Regions from separate parts of the Homo sapiens genome. Here region 2 is reported to be linked to region 1. Evidence: microRNA targets listed by miRTarBase, many of them from high-throughput screens and not tested one by one. Region 1 holds a microRNA gene; the other region holds the end of a gene's coding sequence.

Region 1 (3,251 bases):
ATGAACCCGGGAGGCGGAGCTTGCAGTGAGCCGAGATCGCGCCACTGCACTCCAGCCTGGGCGACAGAGGGAGACTCCGTCCTAAAAAAAAAAAAAAAAGAAAAAAAAAAAAAATGCATGTCCAGCCTGGGTTGGTGAGGGAGGAGGGGCAAGGAGAGAGAGACTGAAGAAGAAAGGAAAATGTTTTATATTTTAGTTCTTTTTAATATCACTTCTTTCCTGCTTTCTGAACAAAAGGGTCCTGTATTTTCACTTTGCACTGGGCCCTAATCAAAGGTTAGCGGCTATAAAGAATCGTCTTCTCAGATTAATTTACCAAAAGGGAAGTTGACAAAAAAACTCTATTTCTGCATCACTCATTTCAGGTCAGCTCATCCTTGTCATGTTAGGGCCTCCTGCAACATGTCCAAATCTTAAATACAAGGCTGTGAAATTAATGCTGAATTTGGGGTTTCGGATGCGAGGAAGCTCCTTTTGGGATATGATTATCAGGAATGCTGCGTGGTAGCCATTTCCTTCACATACTTTGCTGTAGGATTAATTTATACCTCTTTAGAATGACAATGAGGCATTTTATAAAAATAAAGCATAATCAAAACATTATGTACAAAATTTAACAGACAACAACAAAGAAAGATGAAATTTTACTAAGAGTTCTGTTTATTTCCTATTAAAAAGGGTAACACCAGAAAATTGGACATACAAAAACATACTTGTTCTCCTAATTTGAATAAACCAACTGTAAAATCAACATTTTTGAGACAAAGAAATGTGAATATAGGCTGGGTGTTATTTGATATTAAAGAAGTATTGTTAACATTGTTAGGTATGATAATGACATAGTATGTAAAAATATCCTTCATAGATCCACATGGGTATTTATGAGTAAAATAACATAAGGTCTGAGATCCATTTAAAATACTTCTGCAAAAGAAGAAAAAGAGGTAGAGGAAGAAGACAGAAGAAGATGAAGATGAGAAGGTGGAGCAGAAAAAACATGACAAAGAAGATGAAGGTGACGATGAGGACAGAAGTAGAGAGAAAAAAGTGAGATAGATGGAATAGGATTGAGGAGGAGGACTGGCAAAATGATGAGTGATGGAATAGGATTGAGGAAGGGGACTGGCAAAATGATGAGTGATGGAATAGGACTGAGGAAGAGGACGGGCAAAATGATGAGTGTAGGTGATGGAAATGTGAGGACTCATTACAATATTCCCTATACCCTCATACATGTTTTTAAATTCCCCTGATCGAGTGTGTGTGTGTGTATAACCATTGCCTAAAAAAATTTCTCATAAAAATCAAAGAGCATATTTCACATTCTCCTCCATACCAAATGCCTCTTTTTCTGGTGCAAGAAGCATCCTCTGAGGCTGACAGGAATTCTCTAAGCTGAAGAGATACAAAGGAGTTGATGGGAAGGATAATCCGCCCATCGGTTCCTGACACAATATAAAGAAGAAAAGAAGAAAGTGGGTGGAAGCGACTGCCATTGTTACTCTCCTAACCTTTCCTTCTAATTATGCCAGAGCCAAGGCTCAGGTCACAAGGAAAATTATTTTGGTGGTTAACCATTTGCCCTATTTTGTATACATCAAAAAAGCTGTTGTTCTCACACATTCCAATCTCACAGTTTCCCACCCACTTTAAAAATGTATCAAGTGGTCAGATGAACTAAAATATGAATAAAATGACTATATTATGAAGAACACCTTGTTTGCAAACCTACAGATAGCCTGCTTGTGATGCTGAATTGTAAGATACACAACACTTAAACATTTAATCTACTTTATATTATTGTAGGTATTTCAGATAAATGCTCAACATGCCCCGCTTTTAAAAGTTAAATGTAAATTTCTCTCTTGAGTGCAGATGGTGGCCAAGCAAAGTAGTTCTTTGGTCTCACAGACAGAAGGTCAGGTCATGGCTGAAAGACCAAAGAACAATTGCTGCTTTGCTACTCCAAATCATCCATGGAATGAGACACCACGACTTCTTTTCTGAAACTGTCTGTTCAATACAAAACAGTTAAAAAGAGTACCTATAAGATTTCCTCACATTCCGTCTGGGAAAAAAAAATGGTAACAAGCACATCACTTCACAACACATCACAAACATCTTGTAACTGTTCAGAGGTTTTATTCCTAAAGCTGTGACCTCCTAAAAAGGCACATCTCTATCTAAAAACATACCACTAAACGTCATTATGAAAACTACTATTGTTTCACTATTATCAGAAAACGTTTACAAATGAAAACTGCTCCTTGTAAATCCTGCAACTTTAGCCTCCATACCATCACGGATTAATTAAAATGAGATTTAATACTGCAAATACTTCTAATATTGCAAATGCTTCTAAACAAGTTATTCCTTTACAAGTGATATTATACTCCTATTGTCCCTGATCTTTTTTCCTCTAGAAAATTATAATGGAATTTTAAATAACTGAGACTCTTTCCTGATGTATTTTTGCAGTTAGTCCAAAATATTATGCTGTCAGAATGCTGTAGAATAATACGAAAGGCCAAAAGTATGCCAATATATTGATTCCTTTTTAAAAAATTACAATATATCAGGAAAGAAAAGTTATCTGTGATAAACTTAGTAGACCTAGGCCTTCAGTCCCTGACAGAAAGCATTTTCCATTCCACTATCAGGCACGCCCCCAACTGGATGCAATAAAATGTTTCATTATTTGTACATGTTAATAATTAAAAGTCTTCTGAAAATGTAAAACCCATTACAACACCAAATATAGTGGTACAAAAGCAGAATTTTACTTTGGTTGCCAGGATTTTAATTTAGTACTAAGGATTTCAGTTATGACTTGAAAAGCTTTTTGTTCTAGTCTTCATTATCACTTTCATTTTCAATACTTTTCCCAATTGTCTTTGCATCATTTGTTGTAAAGACTTCATTGGCTCAAAAGAGAAAATATGTTGGAAAATATGATGAAAAACCTCGAACTAGAAACATATTTGAAAAAAAACTTATTTGGAGCGACCTACTTCTAAATTCTAAAACAATTATTTTAAAATATTGACACTAAGAACCCAGTCTTACTATTTTAATTGAATAAACAACCTGCTTTCATTGAATACAAAGAATGAAAACCTTCAAGGTCCTGTACTGTAACATAAAAATAGAAAATCAAAAGTCAGCCTATTAGAACTGCCTCTCTAAAAACTTTATCCATGTTGTCAACTAAAATTGGAGTTATCTACTTCATCTCAATAAAGATATAACAT
Region 2 (3,000 bases), not on the chromosome of region 1:
GCAGAGTCTTAATAGCCAGGGAGGCTCAAGATCTCTTCCCGCAGGAAGGGCCATGTGGGTAGGGTTTTGTAGGAAAAGTAGGAGTTCAGCAGTCAGGCCTTGGACAGACATCCAGATCTCTGGCCTGGGGCCAAACAGCAGGACAGACACCATGGTCTCACTCAACCCTCAGATGTCCTGTGCATTGGATAAATGAGACCTTGCTGTCCAGTTTGACTGGAGTAGACATGGACCCACTCACTCACAGGACACCATGGAGAGACCCTGACCTAATGCAAAACCCAGTGCAGCCTTCAACGAGAACCTGGTGTCCTCTCCATCCCGCCCCTGCCTCAGTTCCCTTCTGGGAACGTGCCCACAAGAAACCCTCACTGACTCCACAGGAGGGGCCTAATCTCTCGTCTTCCAAGGCTTTCTTCAAGATGGACATGGGGAGACTAGGGAGCATTTTGGCAAACTGGGGCTGCTTAAGAGCTGAGCACTGGCCCAGCAGGCAGCGTGACAGACTTGACTTCTTCCCTTGCTGTTTTCAGGAGGGCATCTTTCTTTTTTTTTTTTTTTTCAGACAGTCTTCCTCTGTTGCCCAGAGTGGAGTGTAGTGGTGCGATCTCAGCTCACTGCAACCTCCGCCTTCCAGGTTCAAGTGATTCTCGTGCCTGAGTCTCCCGAGTAGCTGGGATTACAGGCTCCTGCCACCACGCCTGGCTACAGAAGGACATCAGTGAGAGGTGCCACCCCCACCACCATTCGGGCCCTTTCTCTCTGCCCTACAGCTCTGGTGCTGAATTCCACAGGTGCCTTTCCCACCACAGAGCTGTGCCACACACTCCCGAGGCTGGGACGGGAGAGTCCCTGGTACCCCACATGATTCCGTATCAACCCAGTGAAGCCCACATTTCAAAGTCTTGGCCTTGTAGGTGCCTGACTCCCAAACGTCAATCTCTGAAACAGATTTTTAGTTCCATGTGAGAAAAAAAACTGAAGTCAGATTGACTCAGGCACAAAAGGGGGGAGACTGAGTTCACAGAACTTAAAACACCCAAGGGTTTCAGGTATGGCTTGATCTGGGGCTCCAAAGGCATCTTGGGAAATTGATCTTCCATCCTTGGCTCTGCTTTAATTAGATTCTCCCAGTTCCAAATCCCACCGTGCAATCTCACTGGCTAGTTTGGCATCCCAGGGCCTCCATAAACCAGTTGCTGTGGCCCAGGGAATGGTGGTCTCTGATTGGCTCGCCTTACATCATGTGACAGGACTGGCCCCAGAGGTTTCTCCCAAGGACATTGGAGCCCAAACAAGATTAAGGGCCCGGCAGCTCATGCCTATAATCACACCACTTTGGGAGGCCAAGGCAGGTGGATCACCTGTCAGGAGTTCGAGACCAGCCTGGCCAACATGGCAAAACCCCTCTAGTTAAGGTACAAAAATCAGCTGAACGTGGTGGTGCGCACCTGTAATCCCAACTACTCAGGAGGCTGAGGCAGGAGAATTGCTCCAACTCGGGAGGCAGAGGTTGCACTGAGCCAAGATTGCACCACTGCACTCCAGCCCAGGTGAAACAGCGAAACTCCATCTCAAAAAAAAAAAAAAAAAAAAAAAAAAAGATTAAGGTTGACCAAAAGAAAGTAAGTGAGGCTAGGCACAGTGGCTCACGCTTGTAATCCACTTTTGGAGGCCTCAGGTGCATCACCTGAGGTCAGGAGTTCGAGACCAACCTGGTCAACATGGTGAAACCCCATCTCTACCAAAAATAAAATTAGCTGGGCATCGTGGTGGGTGCCTGTAGTTCCAGCTACTGGGGAGGCTGAGGCAGGAGAATCGCTTGAACCTGTGAGGCAGAGGTTACAGTGAGCCAAGATCACGCCACTGCACTCCAGCCTGGGTGACGAAGTAGGACTCCGTCTCAAAAATAAAAAATAAAAATAAAGACCAGGGAGGCTGTGCAGGTAGGAAATGTCTTTATTATTGGCCTTGAGTCATCATGTAGTGTCTGACATAGGTTACGTGTCCAGAGGATCTGCCTGGCACACGCTAGCTACCCCTGCCCACTGGAGCAGCCCCTCTGGCCGACGCCAGGCCTTTGTCCATCATGCCAGGGAAGCCAACCCCACCATCCCACAAGTTCATGCTAGGGGTGCTGAGGAACAAGGCTGTCCTAGGATTGGACCCTCCATCCTGGACAGGGGTCCTGGGGAGGATGAGGCTGAGGCCTGGATGATCAGTCTCTTTTTGGTTTCATGATCATTTAAAAAACAGAAAAGACAAACATTTCACAGTCTTTAAAAAATAGAAGTCTGAGGAGAGAAGCCAGAGTCCTGGGCCCCGGGAGGCCCCTCGAGGCCTCAGCATTCCCTGTCCCTTGAGGTCTGTCTGCAGGCCTGGCCACAGCACACGTGGCCCCGTCATGGTCACTGGCCCGAGCCGTAGGGCCAGTTGAAGGTACTCCCCGACAGCAGCATGTCTCTGATCAGTGTCTCAATGGGCGTCTTCCCCACCAGGCGCATGAAGAACAGCTGGGAGATGAGGGAGGCAGGGACCGCGCGCAGGGCGGGGAGCCGCAGCAGCAGGCGCCCGAAGCGCTGGGGCTGGGACGGGTACTGCGCCCGCACATACTCGGTGAGGGCCACCTGCGCCTTCTCCTGCAGGCTCTCAACGTGGGCCGGGTCTGAGAGGCCACAGGCGTCTAGGGGGACAAAGGCAAGTCAGACAGGTGGGAGGCAGCTAGAGAACACAGAGCCCACAGGGGTGACTAGGGGACACCACTCGCCACTGTGGGTAAGAACAGGGGGCCGGGCATGATGGCTCACGGCCACAGTCCCAGCACTTTGGGAGGCCAAGGCAGAAGCATCATTTAAGGCCAGGATTTGAGACCAGCCAGGGCAACATAGTATGATCCCTTCTCTGCAAAAACAAATCAGCTGGGGCTGGGCACAGTAGCTCACGCCTGTAATCCCAGCACTTTGGGAGGCTGAGGCAGGTGGATCACTTGAGGTCAGGAGT

The links. The annotated mature microRNA hsa-miR-4677-3p reads UCUGUGAGACCAAAGAACUACU and lies in region 1 at 1,891-1,912, opposite strand. An mRNA with a match to its seed (bases 2 to 7 or 8) in the 3' UTR can be bound and repressed. Matches are read on the target gene's strand: a 7mer-m8 pairs with bases 2 to 8, a 7mer-A1 pairs with bases 2 to 7 and ends in A, and an 8mer does both.
Region 2: the mRNA of NR2F6 is a reported target of hsa-miR-4677-3p. The part of its 3' UTR that is shown has no 7-base or 8-base seed match.

What each region holds. Positions count from the first base shown.
Region 1 is chr1:243,344,886-243,348,136 of GRCh38, reverse strand. MIR4677 (microRNA 4677) reads right to left here and starts at 1,961; the gene lies at 1,882-1,961. All of the region lies in intron 12 of SDCCAG8 (SHH signaling and ciliogenesis regulator SDCCAG8), which reads right to left.
Region 2 is chr19:17,229,944-17,232,943 of GRCh38, forward strand. It overlaps NR2F6 (nuclear receptor subfamily 2 group F member 6), which reads right to left. Exons shown (of 4, transcript NM_005234.4): 4 at 1,940-2,683. The coding sequence ends at 2,409. Among named protein-coding and RNA genes, the nearest start is that of OCEL1, 5.2 kb to the left of the region's middle.